5 linked regions of the Homo sapiens genome follow. The protein of the gene in region 5 purifies or fractionates together with the protein of the main gene of each other region. This does not show direct contact. Each region holds a gene or a part of one and is shown on either strand. Other genes may lie near its edges.

What was found.
Region 1: the proteins of KDM4A (region 5) and POLA1 purify together in Homo sapiens (pull-down; one study listed by IntAct). This does not show direct contact.
Region 2: the proteins of KDM4A (region 5) and POLD1 purify together in Homo sapiens (pull-down; one study listed by IntAct). This does not show direct contact.
Region 3: the proteins of KDM4A (region 5) and RFC2 purify together in Homo sapiens (pull-down; one study listed by IntAct). This does not show direct contact.
Region 4: the proteins of KDM4A (region 5) and FBXL4 purify together in Homo sapiens (affinity purification with western blotting; one study listed by BioGRID). This does not show direct contact.

What each region holds. Positions count from the first base shown.
Region 1 is NC_000023.11:24,742,402-24,745,919, reverse strand, and holds part of POLA1 (DNA polymerase alpha catalytic subunit), read right to left. Parts: intron 2,691-3,518; coding exon 2,591-2,690; intron 1,480-2,590; exon of another isoform or gene 1,350-1,479; intron 1,321-1,349; exon of another isoform or gene 1,027-1,320; intron 503-1,026; coding exon 378-502; intron 1-377. UniProt on the Homo sapiens protein: Catalytic subunit of the DNA polymerase alpha complex (also known as the alpha DNA polymerase-primase complex) which plays an essential role in the initiation of DNA synthesis.
Region 2 is NC_000019.10:50,401,339-50,404,856, reverse strand, and holds part of POLD1 (DNA polymerase delta catalytic subunit), read right to left. Parts: intron 3,080-3,518; coding exon 2,933-3,079; intron 2,859-2,932; coding exon 2,733-2,858; intron 2,653-2,732; coding exon 2,484-2,652; intron 2,404-2,483; coding exon 2,322-2,403; intron 2,246-2,321; coding exon 2,116-2,245; intron 1,805-2,115; coding exon 1,638-1,804; intron 1,365-1,637; coding exon 1,260-1,364; intron 1-1,259. UniProt on the Homo sapiens protein: As the catalytic component of the trimeric (Pol-delta3 complex) and tetrameric DNA polymerase delta complexes (Pol-delta4 complex), plays a crucial role in high fidelity genome replication, including in lagging strand synthesis, and repair.
Region 3 is NC_000007.14:74,244,389-74,247,906, forward strand, and holds part of RFC2 (replication factor C subunit 2), read right to left. Parts: intron 2,376-3,518; coding exon 2,274-2,375; intron 1-2,273.
Region 4 is NC_000006.12:98,923,947-98,927,464, reverse strand, and holds part of FBXL4 (F-box/LRR-repeat protein 4), read left to right. Parts: intron 1-404; 5' UTR 405-476; coding exon 477-988; intron 989-3,518. UniProt on the Homo sapiens protein: Substrate-recognition component of the mitochondria-localized SCF-FBXL4 ubiquitin E3 ligase complex that plays a role in the restriction of mitophagy by controlling the degradation of BNIP3 and NIX mitophagy receptors.
Region 5 is NC_000001.11:43,670,649-43,674,166, forward strand, and holds part of KDM4A (lysine-specific demethylase 4A), read left to right. Parts: intron 1-856; coding exon 857-1,227; intron 1,228-3,518. UniProt on the Homo sapiens protein: Histone demethylase that specifically demethylates 'Lys-9' and 'Lys-36' residues of histone H3, thereby playing a central role in histone code. Does not demethylate histone H3 'Lys-4', H3 'Lys-27' nor H4 'Lys-20'.

The sequences.
Region 1 (3,518 bases), on a different chromosome or scaffold from region 5:
AAACATTATAAGTGAAATAAGCCAGATACCGAAAGGCCATATAATGTATGATTCTATTTATATGAGACGTCCAGAATACACAAATCTATAAAAGCAAAAAGATTAGTAGTTGCCTAGAGGTGGAAGGGATGGGGATTGAGGGAGGTGACAGCTAAAAGGTTTCTTTGGGGAATAATGAAAATATCCTAAAACTCATTGTGATGATGGTTGCAAACTCTGGGAATACACTAAAAGCCACTGAACTACACACTTCAAACAGGTGAAGTATATGGTATATGAATAATACCACAATAAAACTATTTTAAAAAGACACAGATCTTCCTTCTTTAAGCAATTTTTTTAAACTCAATTTCAAGAGTCCCAGGTTAAATACAAACCTCTGTAACTTTCTGTGCCTCTGAAGCAACTCTTTGTACTGTTGTAAAACAAATGTTAAATTCCTGAATGATGGAAGGATATAGACTGTTGAAGTCCAGAAGCAAAATGAACTTATCATAAAAACCTGAAATTAAAAAGCCACGTCATAAAAAGTCTAAAGAAAAGCAGAATTGTCAAAACATCATTATTAAAAGCACTGTAAGTATATTAGAAACTATATACTATCCATATACACTACCCAGAGCTGTGAAACAGACAAAAAGGGAAAAAAAGAATCAACTACCATTTCATAAAATGATGCGGATTAGTGAAAAGCCAGATCACAAAAGAAGAGGGAGAAAAAGATCCTGTCTCTCTTTAGAACCAGCTACAACCAGTCCTTTCCCCAGCTGTCCCCAAAGCACACCATTATTATGAGCAAATACCTTCCCAATCAGCTATCTGAGACGTGTCACATCCATTAAAAAAAAAAAAATGTTCAACTCTCCTTCAAAGCAAGAATTCTTTGAAGAATCCTCCTACCTACTCTCCCACCCCCCACCCCAAATAAAACCAAGTGAGTGGTTTATTTTTATTTTTATTTTTTTTTTTGAGTCAGAGTCTCACTCTGTCTCCAGGATGGAGTGCCATGGCGCAATCTCAGCTCACCGCAACCTCTGCCTCCCGGGTTCAAGTGAGTCCCCTTGCCTCAGCCTCCCGAATAGCTGGGACTACAGGCGCGCAACACCGTGCTCGGCTAATTTTTTATATTTTAGTAGAGATGGGGCTTCACCATGTTGGCCAGGACGGTCTCGATCTCCTGACCTCGTGATCTGCCTGCCTCAGCCTCCCAAAGTGCTGAAATTACAGGCGTGAGCCACCGCGCCTGGTAGAGTAATTTATTCTTTTACAACAGCTTCAAAAAATAAAATGGACGGCACATTTACCTGTACAAAAACTGAGCTAAAATCAAACAAGAGACACATATATATAAATGTCAGTAGTGGAACGACCCACCCTTTTTACTTGCAAAGGAAGAACAGAAAGCTACTATATTTCTGTAGGACATTTACAAAGAGTTATCTTCACCTTGAGAAGAAACTGAATAAAAATAAATGTCCACTATTAAGACAATAATAATTGCAAACATATAGGATAGTTTATTCTGTGTCCAGCACTATACTAATTTATCCTTAAATCCCTGTGTGGTAGATATTACTCTTAACTCTATTTTACAGAAGAAACTGAGGCTTACAGAGGTTAAACAGGCAGCCCAAGATCACACTGAATTCAAACCCAGACCTACATAACACCAAGTACTACTGCTCCATTTCATTATAACTAATAACAAAATCACTTTTGTCAAAAATGTTTCCTACTCAGAACTAACTTATTAGATAAAATTCACATTAATTCCTTCACAGCAATGTGAATATTCTTAACACTACTGCTGAACTGTACACTTGGGAAGGGTTGAAATGTTTTTTTATATATACAAAAAAATTAGCTGGGTATGCTGGCACACACCTGTAGTCCTAGCTACTCAGGAGGCTAAGGCAGGAGAATCGCTTGAACCCAAGAGGTGAAGGTTGCAGTGAGTAGAGATCGCACCACTGCACTCCAGCCCGGGCAACAGAGTAAAACTCTGTCTCCAAAAAAAAAAAAGAAAAAAAGAAAAAAAAATTATTTCTAGCTCTGTGTACCACAAAACATCTTTGCCATTCATGACAATAGGGAAAAAGATATTCTCCTATTAAAGTTAAATTTGGTGGTTATTGTCTGCACGTCCTTCAACTTTGCTGTCAACTGAACTGGTCAGGACAAACAGCTATCTATGTACTGGACAGCTATCTATGTATTAGACAAACTACGGCTACAGACCAAATCCAACCTACTTATTTTTGTACCACCCATGAGCTTAAGTATGGTTTTTACATTTTTAAATGGCTGGAAAAAAATCAAAAACAATATTTCATGACATATGAAAACTATATGAAATTTAAATTTCAATGTCTATAAATAATATTTTATTGGAACACAGCATAACAAAATTCACATTAAGTCTATGTCAGGTGACTGGCAACCAAGATTTTCACGTGAACGAAAGATAAAAGTCATGAGACCTATTCGCTGATCTATAAGATATAATTCAGTCTTCTAGTTTCTCAAGCCTAGATCCACATTAAGAAATTCCTTAATACTGGGAGAAAACCAATTCACTGCCCAGCCTTACCAACTTTGGGGTCCAAAACCAAGCCTCCAGCATAAGCTGCTTTCTTACGTCCTTTCTTGTATTTATTGGTATCTCCATCAATTTCTTCATCTTCATCTCCCTAATATCAAATGGAAAGATAACTTCACCAGCCAGCAACTAATTAACTAATTTAAAATTTTGATGATTCTCTCTTTTCCAATTGCAGGACTTAGTTCTAACAAACATTTCAGTTAGTGGTCCTATCTGTTGGGAAAGACAGTTATTGTAATATGTTCACGAATCCAAATGAATCCCAAGCATAGTAATTTCTTAAACAAATACTATATCCTGAGTTAACAAATATGAAAATTCTATTTTTATGTGTTTTTGAATTTACAGAATTTCATATTTTTAAATCAATGAATATTGAAAAATACCACTTTTCATGTTATATAAAATTTGAGATTATAAAACAGCCCTCTTAAAATCACTACTCTAACATTCGTGATGTAAAAACATAAAATACTTCATGCAGGTATTATCATTATCCCTATTATTAATATGGACACCATAAAACAAGTACATCCATATACTGAAAATCCATTCCTAAGTAGTTTATTACTGGCCAACATTCAATACCTCAGCAGAAGTTAAAGTCCTCTAAATGAATATGCCCTATACCAATTTTGATAATGTACATTAAAAAACAAGCAAATATGAGAACCTGAATCAAATTCTAACATTCAATTCCCATTTCTGAATTAATTAATATCAGTGCTAATAAAACAGTAGCTAAACTAAGTTTTAGTTCCAAAGTGATGGAGGCTACTTCAGAAACCTGACTGTGGGTGACCTTGGTCATACTAGTACAGAAAAATGCAACACAAAAATAAAGGCTCATAGGTTTAAGAAAATAAAAAGTTTAACTGGCATTTATCTTTGGATAGGGCTGAGGTGCCAGAACACA
Region 2 (3,518 bases), on a different chromosome or scaffold from region 5:
GCGCCCCCTGGGAGGCGGAGGTTGTGGTGAGCCAAGATCGTGCCATTGCACTCCAGCCTGGGCAACAAGAGCGAAATTCCATCTCAAGAAACAATAACAAAAAAGCAAAAATTTGCGGGGCGTGGTGGCTCACGCCTGTAATCCCAGCTACTTGGGAGGCTGAGGCAGGAGAATCGCTTGAACCTGGGAGGTGGAGGTTGCAGTGAGCCTCGATCGTGCCATCGCACTCCAGCCTGGGCGACACAGCGAGACTCTGTCTCAAAAAAAAAAAAAAAAAAAAAAGAAAGAGAAAAGGGGTTGGGTGCAGTAGCTCACGCCTATAATCCCAACACTTTGGGAGGCCGAGGCAGACGGATCACAAGGTCAGGAGATCAAGACCATCCTCGCTAACACAGTGAAACCCCGTCTCTACTAAAAACACAAAAAATTAGCCAGGCGTGGTGGCGGGCGCCTGTAGTCCCAGCTACTTGGGAGGCTGAGGCAGGAGAATGGCATGAACCTGGGAGGCGGAGTTTGCAGTGAGCCAAGATTGCGCCACTGCACTCCAGCCTGGGCGACAGAGCGAGACTTTGTCTTGGAAAAAAAAAAAAAAGGGAGGACATGTGGAAACAGACACGCACAGAGAGAAGACGGTGTGAAGAGGCACAGGGGGATGATGGCCGTCTGCAAGCCAAGGAGAGAGGCCGTGAACCAGTCCTCCCTTGCAGCCCCCGAAGGAAGCAGGCCCGCTGACACTTTGGTCATGGACTTTCCAGCCTTCAGGACGGTGAGACAATGACTTTTTGCTGTTTTCAGCCACCTGGTCTGTGGCTCTTTGTTACAGCAACTCGGGCAGAGGAATCCACCCTTACACACATGCAGACTCAAGAAGCATCCGGAATTTGCCCCATCAGTCAACACACTCCCCCCTCCTCCTCCATTATGATTCTTTTCCTTATGCTGATATAACCTAAAGGAAGACTGGGATTCAGTGGCTGCTTCATGGCTTGTTGAACCCCTGCAAGCTTCAGGCCGACCTTGAATGCACAGCCTTCTCTTACTCCACCGTAACGCCCTCCTTGCCTCTGATAAAAGCCACAGTAACTTTTTCGACTTGGAGCAGGGCAGGACCAGGCCTAGGCTGCCCCTGCAGGCAATCGGCTGAGGCACACAGAGCAAGATGCACCAAGCCATGTGGAGAGGGAGTGGGAAGGAGGCCCAGGGCCCGGAGGCCACACCTGGGGCATCTGAGAGAAGCCTCCCACCTGCCCAGCCCTCACCTTGAGGGTCTGGGCCCGAGAGATGAGGTACGGAAGGTCGAAGTTCTGGATGTTGTAACCGGTGATCACGTCGGGGTCCATGATACGGATGAAGGTGGACCAGGCCTGGGGGTGGGAGCACATTGGGTCACCCTGGTGGTTGCCCTGCCTCGGATTCCCCTACTTCCAGAATGTTCTAGAACCCCAGCCACCCCTGAAAATCCTGCAGAACCCAGAGGGGAAGTGCTCAAGCCTAATTGCACAGGGGCCCACCCAGACCCACAGACACCCACCCAGACCCACAGACATGGGCGTCGCAGCACCCAGGAGCTGATGGCTCAGGACGCGGAGGCTGGCGGGGACCCCGGGAAATGGTGTGGGGCGTGGAGCGAGAGCTACCTGCAGCAGGTCCTCCTCCTTCTCGTAGCTCTGCACCTTGGCACCCAGGATGGGGGCACAGGGCCGCAGGGTGAGCGCCAGGCGTAGGAAGGGCTCCGGCTCCCCCCAGCGCAGGCCCAGCGAGCAGATCTGGATGACAGGGTCCCGCTCAGGCTCAGGGAAGATGCCTGCGAGGCAGGAGGATGCAGGGGCCTGACTCCTGCCCCTCACTCCCAACACAGCAGGGAGGCTGCACCTGCCATCTCCCCGGGGCTGTCCCCGCTGCCTGCCGGCCCTACGTGGCTCACCCTGGCTCCTGCTCTGCTCTCACCTCCAGGCCATCTCCACACCCTCTGTGCTCACTCCATCTGGCCACATGGGCTGGGGTGCTCCTGCCCCGGCACCTTCATGCTTGCCATTCCCTCCACCGGACCTGCCTTTCCGACCCCCGACTTGGCACATCAATGAGGCGGGCAGGAGCCCGGGCCCGGGGACAGACCTTTGCGGCCGGCGCACTCGATATCGAAGCTGAGCACGCGCAAGGGCGCAATGCGCTGCCATGGCCCTTCCGGTGGGTGACTGACCACGTCAGACCACAGCACGTCCGCCTCCAGCTGGCACTGCGTAGCCTGTGGGCATGGGTGGGTCAGCGGTGGCAGCAGGGTACCAGCTCCCCACCCAGCCCTGCCCTGGGAAGCCCTGCACCTTCTCCTTCAGCCTCAGGGCGTATTTCCCAGCTGGGAGCTCCAGCCAGTTGCAGCCGACGATGTCCGTGTCCACCATGAACCTGGAGGGGGCTGGGGGTCAGTGGACAGGGGCTGCCCGAGGGTGGGGATAGAGGCCGGAGAAGTGAGGCAGAGGCCGTACCGGATCTCAAAGTCGACGTTGGCCTCGTAGGGCGCGAAGCTGGGCGTGCCCAGGCCTGCCACACGGATGCCCTGTTCCAGGAGACGGCGGGCCGGGGCCACGAGGCGCGGCAGCGCCACGGTGATGCGCAGGAACGGGGAGGGGCCGTGCCCGTGGTACCCAAACATGCCTGTGGATGGAAGAAGCTGGGACCAGCCAATGGCCTCCCGAGGGGACCCTCCAACCCGCTGATCCTGGGGGAGCACTCACTCTCTCGGGAGCACAGTTCCACAGCCAGCACGGCCGGCCCAGTCAGCTCCCTCCCCCCGCGACTGTCCCGGCTGATGGCCAAGTTCAGCTCCCGTTGCAGGTCACCCATGTGCTCGGGCCCGAAACCTGGTGTGGGAGGGATGATCAGAGGTGCAGGGGGCTCCAGTGGCTCAGGGAGGGGCTGGGTAGGGGCCACTCACCAGGGGGCGCTGGGGTGTAGAAGTAGGGAGCGAAGCCGTGGATGTGGCAGCAGACAGAGAACCCCTCATCGGTGACCCCGAAGGCGCGGAGCACAGGCACGGAGCCGCGGGATGGTGGGGGCCCCCCAGGCACAGGCTGCGCTGGGCCTGTGGGGTCACAGGGTAAGACAGCGGCCATGCCTCTCAGGGTCCTCCAAGGTGTGTCTCCACAGCCTCGAAATACCTTGGGGCCTGCAGCCTGGGGCACTCCTGCCCCTGTACCGTTCCCTGTGTCCATTTCAGCCTCCCCCCTGGTTCCCATCTCCAGCCTCATCCCCCAGGATCCATTCTCCACAGCACAACTACAGGGAGGCCCTTCTTTTTTATTACAAGATAAAAACAACTGGCCGTGCACAGTGACTCACACCTGTGATTCCAGTGCTTTGTGAGGCCAAGGCGGGAGGATCGCTAGAGCCCAGGACTTTGAGACCAGCCTGGGCAAAAGAGCGAGACCCAGTCTCAAAAAAAAGAAAAAAAAAAAAAAAAAAAAAAAATATATATATATATATATATATATACACATATACACAAATACACACACATATTA
Region 3 (3,518 bases), on a different chromosome or scaffold from region 5:
GTTGCCCAGGCTGGTGTGCACTGGCACCATCTCAGTTCACTGCAACCTCTGTCTCCCGGGTACAAGCGATTCTCCTGCCTTGGACTCCTTAGTACCTGGGATTACAAGCACCATTGCATTCCAGCCTGGGCGCCACCATGTCCGGCTAATTTTTATACTTTTAGTAGAGACGGGGTTTCCACGTTGGCCAGGCTGGTTTCGAACTCCTGACCTCAAGCAATCTGCCCGCCTCGGCCTCCCAAAGTGCTGGGATTACAGGTGTGAGCCACCGCACCTGGCCCTAAAAAAAATTTATTTCGCCAGGCACAGCACCTCATGCCTGCAATCCTAGCACTTTGGGAGGCCGAGGCAGACAGATCACTTGAGGCCAGGAGTTTGAGACCAGCCTGGGTAACATAGTGAGATCCTGCCCCTGTGAAAAAAAAAATAGCTGGTTGCAGTTGCACAAGCCTGTAGTCTCCGCTACTTGGGAGGCTGAGGTGGAGGATCATTACAGCCGAGGAGTTCAAGGTTGCAGTGAGCTATGACTGTGCCATTGGACTCTAGTCTGAGTGATATAGTGAGACCCTGTCTCAAAAACTACAACAAAAAACAACGTTATAGGGTTAGGGTTCTATATTCTTTTCTTAATGTCATTTCAATTTTTTTTTTTTTTTTGAGATGGAGTTTCGCTCTTGTTGCCCAGGTTGCAGTGCAAATGGCATGATCTCAGCTCACCACAACCTTCGCCTCCGGGGTTCAAGCAATTCTCCTGCCTCAGCCTCCCAAGTAGCTGGGATTACAGGTATGTGCCACCACACCTGGCTAATTTTGTATTTTTAGTAGAGACGAAGTTTCTCCATGTTGGTCTCCATCTCCCGACCTCAGGTGATCCGCCTGCCTCGGCCTCCCAAAGTGCTGGGATTACAGGCATGAGCCACCGAGCCTGGACTCAGATTCTTCATTTATACCAACCGAAGTGTTGTGATGGTTGCACAACATTGCAAATGTACTAAATGCCACTGAACTGTATACTTCAAAATAGTTAAAATGGTAAATTTTGGGCCGGGCGCAGTGGCTCACACCTATAATCCCAGCACTTTGGGAGGCCGAGGCGGGCGGATCATGAGGCCAGGAGATCAAGACCATCCTGGCTAACACAGTGAAACCCCGTCTCTACTAAAAATACAAAAAAATTAGCTGGGCGTGGTGGAGGGCGCCTGTAGTCCCAGCTACTCGAGAGGCTGAGGCAGAAGAATGGCGTGAACCCAGAAGGTGGAGCTTGCAGTGAGCCAAGATTGCGCCACTGCACTCCAGCCTGGGCGACAGAGCAAGACTCCGTCTCACAAAAAAAAAAAAAAAAAAATTTATGGTTAATTATGTCCATTTAACCACAATAAAAAAATTTACAGGCCAGGCACAGTGGCTCACACCTATAATCCCAGCATTTTGGGAGGCCGAGGCGGGTAGATCACCTGAAGTCAGGAGTTCGAGACCAGCCTGGCCAACATGGCGAAACCCCATCTCTACTAAAAATACAAAAATTAGGCCAGGCTCGGTGGCTCATGCCTGTAATCCCAGCACTTTGGGAGGCTGAGGCGGGCGGATCACGAGGTCAGGAGATTGAGACCACCCTGGCTAACATGGTGAAACCCCTTCTCTACTAAAAATACAAAAAATCAGCTGGGCGTGGTGGTGCATGCCTGTAGTCTCAGCTACTCGGGAGGCTGAGGCAGGAGAATCACGTGAACCCAGGAGGCGGAGGTTGCAGTGAGCTGAAATCGCACCACTGCACTCCAGCCTGGGAGACAGAGCGAGACTCTGTCTCAAAAAAAAAATAAATAAATAAATACAAATACAAATACAAATACAAATACAAAAATTAGCCGGGTGTGGCGGCAGATGCCTGTAGTCCCAGATACTTGGGAGGCTGAGGCCAGGGAACCGCCTGAACCCGGGAGGCGGAGGTTGCAGTGAGCAGAGATCACACCACTATACTCCAGCCTGAGTGACAGAGAGAAACTCCATCTCAAAAAAAAAAAAAAACAAAAACCCTCATTTAAATTATTAACGTAAGAGATGCTGAAACCAGCACATTAAATGAATGACTATCTTAGACAAATGTTTGTAAGTTACTTAATAAAGATAAGATTTAAGGTGCAGGCCCCTATTAAATTGCTTGTGGAAGATATGATAAGCAAATCTACCATAAAAGTGCTTTTTATCCTGATTGAATAAAACCGAAAAAGAGATTTAGAGATCAAGGTCAAAATACATTTGGCAAAGCACTCTACCTGTCTGCTTCATCCAGAATGATGATCTTATGTCGGCCTTTGGGAAGAGTGACTTTTTGTTGAGCAAACATTTTAATTTTATTCCTCACAACGTCAATGCCCCTGAAAGAATGACAGGTTTTTACTGGCACCTTCTGAGACCAATTCAGTTGCCTTCACAAGGACTTTTAAACAATCGGTATATCAGGGACTGTGAGGCCCAATTTCCATTTTTGAGTTTTTTTGGGGGGCAATTGTAACTATTTATAAGGATTGAGATTTTATGGCATTTGTTCTTTCTTGGAGGTCTTTCAAAGAACAAAGAAAATATACACTTTTTTTTTTTTTTTCTTCAGACAGGGTCTCGCTGTGTCATCCAGGCTGGAGTGCAGTGGCCCTCTTGGCTCACTGCAAGCTCTGCCTCCCAGGTTCAGTGAGCCGGGATCACGCCACTGCACCCCAGCCTGGCGATAATTCGTCTCAAAAAAAAAAAAAAGCCTCATCCTTCAGTTTTTTAACTGCATTGCTTGAGATACCATATTATCTTTCAAAAGATGTAATAGAAGTGCAGATATACCACCTTTGTTATCTTGTAAGCTTTCACTAACCACAGCCAAGAATTCAAAATTTTTCATTCTCTACCCACAACAGGAAAGAGAAAAAAATTGAGAGGAGGACTCTTCCTAATTATTAGGTGAATCAGAAAATAACTGCAATGTAGGCCAAGCATGGTGGCTCACACCTGTAATCCCAACACTTTAGGAGGCCAAGGTGGGCGGACCACTCCAGGCCAGTTTAAGATCAACCTGGCCAACACGGCGAAAATCCATCTTTACTAAAAATACAAAAATTACCTGGGCGTGCCCGCGCACGCCTGTAGTCCCGGCTACTTGGGAGGCTGAGGCACGAGAATCGCTTGAACCCAGAAGGCAGAGGTTATGGTGAGTCGAGATCGTGCCACTGCACTCCAGCCTGGGTGACAGAGCAAGACTCTGTCTCAAAAAAAAAGAAAGAAAGAAAAGAACAGAACAGAACAGTACAGAACTGCAGAGACACCAATAGCAACATTCTAAATGCTACTGATGGTGAAATTGATCAATAAGCAAAATCTCAGACTATGAATCTTCAGATGCCAATATCCTCCAGACATTTTCCCTAACTGAAGAATCAAGGAGTGAACAATATGCAGCTGTCCCTTGGTGTTCCTGGGGACTGGTGCTAGGCCCTTCCTCAGACACCAAAATTCACTTTTGCTCAAGTCCCTTA
Region 4 (3,518 bases), on a different chromosome or scaffold from region 5:
ACATGTAAAATTACAGCAATGTCTAAGATTATTTTGAATTTACAGCAGTATTTTAGTGGTTCACCATATAATTTAAATAATTTTAATTTTCAGATTCAAAGACTTAGTATTTCTTGAGTGATGGTTATAATTTTGTATAAAATACGGCTTTTTGGATTGTATATCTTCCAATTGCCTTATAATATAGTTTTGCTTCCCATATTGTATGCATAACAATATTTAGGTTTCTTAAAAATACATTAGAAAATTTATTTATACCAGACTTCACATTTGTATTTTAAAACTTGTTTTTTTAGTTTCATTCTGAGAAATTACATTGAGGGTAGAGCCTGTTCATTACCTTATCCATGCATTTTTCTGCTTATTTAAATTATTTTACTTCACCAAGCCATTCATTTTTTTAGAACATCCTTCAAAGAGTTCATGCATCTTACTGAGGACACCTGACCTTTTGAAGCTTCATAATTCACATCTAGATGTCACCGGTCTTTCCCATGTTAACAGTTCTGACCATGTTTTATTATATATGCCTTCGGCGCCGAGCCAGGACAGCTACAAGAGGAGAAATGATGAACACCCATAGAGCTATAGAATCAAACAGCCAGACTTCCCCTCTCAATGCAGAGGTAGTCCAGTATGCCAAAGAAGTAGTGGATTTCAGTTCCCATTATGGAAGTGAGAATAGTATGTCCTATACTATGTGGAATTTGGCTGGTGTACCAAATGTATTCCCAAGTTCTGGTGACTTTACTCAGACAGCTGTGTTTCGAACTTATGGGACATGGTGGGATCAGTGTCCTAGTGCTTCCTTGCCATTCAAGAGGACGCCACCTAATTTTCAGAGCCAGGACTATGTGGAACTTACTTTTGAACAACAGGTGTATCCTACAGCTGTACATGTTCTAGAAACCTATCATCCCGGAGCAGTCATTAGAATTCTCGCTTGTTCTGCAAATCCTTATTCCCCAAATCCACCAGCTGAAGTAAGGTAAGACTAATTTTTTAATGACCTAAGTTATATGGTAGAAAGGTTTTGGTTGTTAATATTGGAGATCTTTTTTATTGCAAGCATTCTTTTAAGTAACTTAATTGAATTTGATTTTGAAAATTTTCCTTAGTTTTCTGATGGGGAAGAGAGATCACTCATATAAAGATTTAATTCAGGCTTTATACCTGTAATACCTCATACTGTAATATTCATGGCTTATGATATTTGTATCTCATAAAATTTACCAAAACCAAAAAGCACAATTTGAACTCATAGGGACATGGGCCATTCTGGGACGTTAGTACGAAATATGACTTTGAAAATATTTTCAAACAGGCATCATGTTACTACTTTTAAATCTTTTCAACAACTCACAATAGGCCTGTGAGTGACACTTCAGAGGAGGTCCTTAGGGGATTTGGTTTAACGTTAGTTGAATGTTTTTGCAACACCCATATTCATTTAAAAATCAATGTTGCTTTAAGTAATTCATGCATTCTCCCTACAAGCCTGTTTTGCATAACAGCTCCTTGGCTGTCGTTTTTGTCATTCAACCTCCTAATTTTACAAAATATTAATATAATGCAGTCTCACATGTACCCTGTTCTCCATGTGCCTAGGACCCATTCCTCCCTCGAAGAAACCACTTTTATCAGCTCATTTTGTATCTTTCCAGAATTTCTTTGTGCAGACACAAGCAAATACAAATATAATTTTATATTTTTATACACAAAAGTAAGCATATTTATCACACTGTTCTGTACCTTGTTTCACACAGTAGTATATGTTGGATCTTTTCTTGTAAGTACAAAGAGAGCTTCCTCATTCTTTCCTGCATTTGCAAGTAATGCATAGTGTGTATGAACCCCAACTTATTAACTAGTCCCCCATTGATGGGCACTTAGTTGTTTCTAGTCTTTTGCTCTTATAAACATTAATGCAGGGAATGACCTTATCATAAGTCACTTTGCATGTGTGCAAGTATATCTGTGGGATAAATTTCCTAGAAGAAGGCTACTCAACCAAGGATAATTTGATAATTTTGTAATGTTTAACATTTTTTTTTTGCATTTTAACAATTTATTCTTAGTTACATTTAATTTTAATTTTTAACAGTTGTAATTTTCATATGTAATGCCAAATTTCTCTCCAAAGAGTCTGTACTATTTATATTCCCACTAGCAGGGCATGTACATGGGTGTTTTGCCAAAGCCTCGCCTACAGAGTATGTTTATAAATTTCAATATTTTTGCAATTTAATAGGTGAAAAATGTTATCTCATGTTAACTGTTAAAATTCTTTTATTATCTCTGAGGTTGAAATCTTTTCATATGTTTAAAAGCCATTTATATTTCTTTTTCCTTTAACTATCTGATCATATTATTTGCTCATTTTTTCTATTACTCATGGATCTTAGCAGTTTCTAGGACTTCATATCACTTTATTAAATCACTCGTTCATTAAATATTTTAGTGCCTACCTAATGTGCTAGGTGTTGTTCTAGGTATTAGAGATGTGTCAGCGAGCAGTGAACAAAATAAATAAAAATTCCCGCTCTCATTCTAGCCTGAGAGCAGATCAGGGCACCTGTTCAACTGTAGGGATGGCCAGCTGCCAGTGCAGGAGGAGGCGGGCAGAGGTCAGCTGCTACCTCCGTAACATGCAGCTCCTCTGATATCTCTGTCCCCTCATCTCTAAGGGAATACTTCCAGGGCCTGCCAGAAAACATACAGAGTACAGCTCAACTTGGAGATTGCTGGTATAATCTTTACTTTTTTTTCCAGAACTACCTAATAATTCATTGCAAATAATGTTATTAGTCGTTTTTTAAACTCAGAAAGCCAGCATACCTTAATTAAAATCAGATTTTTGTTTTCTCCCTAAGAGGAAAAAATGGAGTAGGATCTTTTGTTTTGTTTTGAGACAGGGTCTCACTCTGTCGCCCAGGCTGGAGTGTAGTGGCACGATCTTGGCTCACTGCAACCTCTGCCTCTCGGGTTAATGAGATTCTCCTGCCTCAGCCACCTGAGCGGCTGGGATTACAGGTGCGTGCCACCATGCCTGGCTAATTTTTGTATTTTTAATAGAGATGGGGTTTCACCAGGTTGGGCAGGCTGGTCTCGAACTCTTGACCTCAGGTGATCCGCCTGCCTCGGCCTCCCAAAGTGCTGGAATTACAGATGGGAGCCACTGTGCATGGCAGGATCTTTTCTTATATGAGAATTGTTTTATTAGGACTCTGACATTCTTCTTACAAAGTTACCTACTTTTTTCCAAAAATCTGAAAAGATTTAGGGAGGAGATCAATGGAACATGTAATGTGTTTTCTCCAGTCTAAAACTTAACAGCTGCATAACTAATTTTAAGTACAAATCATGCTCTTGGGTTACTGAGAGTTACTGGTATATGGTTGTGATTAAAGTTAAAACTTTATTTATACCTGTATCTCTAATTTTCTTTACTGATTTTCAGCTTTAGTCTACTGAAAATACCATTACATTTTAAGAGAAAAAAAGGTGACCAATATATT
Region 5 (3,518 bases):
CGCCTCCCGGGTTCAAGTGATTCTCCTACCTCAGCCTCCCAAGTAGCTGGGACTACAGATGCTTGCTACCACGCTGGCTGATTTTTGTATTTTTAGTAGAGACGGGGTTTCACTCTGTTAGCCAGGATGGTCTCGATCTCCTGACATCGTGATCCGCCCACCTCAGCCTCCCAAAGTGCTGGGATTACAGCAGTGAGCCACCATGCCTGGCCCATGCCTGGCTAATTTTTAAATTCTGTAGAGACAGAGTCTGACTTTGTTGCCCAGGCTGGTCTTGAACTCCTGGGCTCCAGCAATCCTCCCATCTTGGCCTCCCAAAGTGCTGGGATTACAGTTTTGAACTACTGCTCCTGGTCCAACATGATTTGTGAAGTATATATAAGTTGTGGAATGGGTAAATCTAGCTGTTTAAAATACATATTCACATAGTGGTCATTTTTGCAGTGAGAACATTTAACATCCACCCTCTTAATATTTTTCAAGATCTTTAGATTTTCTAGCATGGGCTAGGTAGCCAGGTCTCTGCTGAGCTCAGACTTGCATTACCTGCAGGAGACTTTGGAGGAAATGGCAGCTGCCCCTTACTGAGTGTCTGCTGAGTGCCAGGCGGTGCTCAGGAGTCTTATTTATGAGCCCTGTAGATCTGTAGTAGCATCTTCTCATTACAGAGGAAGAAGCTGGAGGCCAGGAGGCTGAGCAAATAGCCCTGGCTCACAGTGCCCCTCAGTGACAGAGCCAGGATTGGAAGCCAGGTCCCATTCCCCGCCCATGTTCCTTGTGCTTTGCCCTCTGCCTTTCATCAGGTTCACATGTGCAGGAGGAACTTGGCTCTGTCTAATGTGTATGTGTGTTTCAGATTATTCTGACTCCACTGAAGTCAAATTTGAAGAGCTTAAAAATGTCAAACTAGAAGAGGAGGATGAGGAGGAAGAACAAGCAGCAGCTGCCTTGGATCTTTCTGTGAATCCTGCGTCTGTAGGGGGACGCCTTGTCTTCTCAGGCTCCAAAAAGAAATCATCTTCTAGCCTGGGCTCTGGCTCTTCACGGGATTCTATCTCTTCTGATTCAGAAACTAGTGAGCCTCTCTCCTGCCGAGCCCAAGGGCAAACGGGAGTTCTCACTGTGCACAGTTATGCCAAAGGGGATGGCAGGGTCACTGTGGGAGAGCCATGCACGAGGAAGAAAGGAAGCGCCGCTAGAAGTTTCAGTGAGCGGGAGCTGGCAGAGGTATGGGCTCCAGGCAGTGGTGTGGGGTGGGGAGCTGCCCTGGAGGACACCCTGTCGGGAGGGGATCTGTGTGGGGGAGGGAGGTGGATCTGTGTGATGGAGGTGCTGCAGGAGGGCAGGAGAGACCCTCAGTCAGTGCCTCTAGCCAGCAGTGGTTGTGTCAAACAAAAGCCTGGGGTGGCATTCACTCTCCCAGCTTGTTCTTTGCTGGGAGTTGCTTTTCTGTTATCCCTGTGGCTACTGATTCCAAGAATTGCATCAATGCAGCCTGAGTCACAGCAGCAGATCCTCCTCAGCCCACTTGGATCACAATGCCTTTTTTTTTTTTCTTGAGATAGAGTCTCTGCTCTGTTGCCTAGCTAGAGTGCAGTGGCATGATCTTGGCTCACTGCAACCTCTGCCTTCCAGGTTCAAGCAGTTCTCCTGCCTCAGCCTCTCGAGTAGCTGGTATTACAGGTGTGTGCCACCACACCCAGCTAATTTTTGTATTTTTAGTAGAGACAGGGTTTCACCATGTTGGCCAGGCTGGTCTGGAACTCCTGACCTCGTGATCTGCCCACCTCAGCCTCCCAAAGTGGTGGGATTACAGGCGTGAGCCACTGTGGCTGGCCTTTTGTTTTTTTTTCTTTTTTTTTTTGAGACGGGGTCTCGCTCTGTTGCCCAGGCTGGAGTGCAGTGGCACGATCTTGGCTCACTGCAAGCTCCGCCTCCTGGGTTCACACCATTCTCCTGCCTCAGCCTCCCGAGTAGCTGGGACTACAGGCGCCCACCACCACGCCCAGCTAATTTTTTGTATTTTTAGTAGAGACTGGGTTTCACCGTGTTAGCCAGGATGGTCTCGATTTCCTGACCTTGTGATCCGCCTGCCTTGGCCTCCCAAAGTACTGGGATTACAGGCGTGAACCACCGTGGCTGGCCTTTTCAACTGGGGTAGGCAGGAACTCTTCCTCTGATCCTCATTGCCTTAGCGGCACCAGGGTTAGAATGGCTGCTGTTGGAGCCCACGTGTTTGGAGGTTTGGGATCAGATGAGATGACCTTTCTTACCTTGAAATTCAAGGGTTTTTTTCTTACACCTCTTGACTGCCCTGTAGACTCCCAGTATGACATTGATAGAGCATCCTTTTGGAGACCAAGATGCATTCCCAAAGCTATAAACACGAACATGTGTGTTCAGGCTTCCTCCTTAAATACATGTTGTCACCAAAAGCTGATTCCTGCTTTTGTGCAAAATGGCTCTTGGTGGGTCTGCCACTCTGAGTGATCAGTCATGTCAGATGCCACTGGACCCCCACTACCCAAGTGACTTTCCCTGACTCCCCAGCCTTGGAGCTTATGTGGGTCAAGCTGCAGTCTTTGGTGAGGGGTGGGAGATAGAAGAAGCCAGTGCAGAAGGTCCTCTTTATTCCCTATTCCCTTACCTTTAGTTTTTAAAAATGTATCTTAAAAATCTTCACTATGGAAAATTTCTGACGTACGTACAAAATACCATCACGAGCCCCCGCGTGTACTCATCATATATATGATTAACATTTGGCACATTTGCTTTCTGTTTTCTTTGGCTGCAGTACTTGACACTCAGTCATATTCACATTTCCCTAGTGTTGCCAATAGTCCCTTTTTATGGTAGGTTTGTCTCCTTGTTGTTGATACTCATAACTTTTCTCGGTGCCTTCTCTGAATCTCAGGGTACGGTTTTGGTAGACTTCTTTTTACCTTGTGAATGTTCCTCTTTCCATCCCACTGTGGTTGCAGGCTAATGAGCTAATAACTACTGTGTTTCCTTCTCATTGCCTCTGATTGCAGTTCTCTGTGCCTTCTTATGGCAGCTTCCATAAAGGAGGGCTTTTTCAGCCTGGAAACCAGAGTCTCTTTAACTCCCAGTTGCCACCTAGCAATTCTTCCTTCGCAGAGGCCCCGGGCCATTTCATCCATCCTACTGTTGACTACTGTTCACTACAGTTCATGCTGTCCTCTTGCTGAGTCTTCCTGACATTCTTGTTTCTAGTTGCAATCACAATCACAAAAAGCAGCTAAGAAGTAGCAAGAGCTCACTGTATATTAAATACTTTGTTTATCTTTTTTGAGACAGGGTCTTGCTCTGTTGCCCAGGGTAGAGTGCAGTGGCACAGTCTTGGCTCACTGCAACTTCTGCCTTCTGGGTTCAACCCATCCTCCCCACCTCAGCCTCCCAAGTAGCTGGGACTACAGGTGCACACCACCACTCTTGGCCAATTTTTGTATTTTTCGTAGAGATGGGGTTTCAACATGTTGCCCAGACTGGTCTCGAAA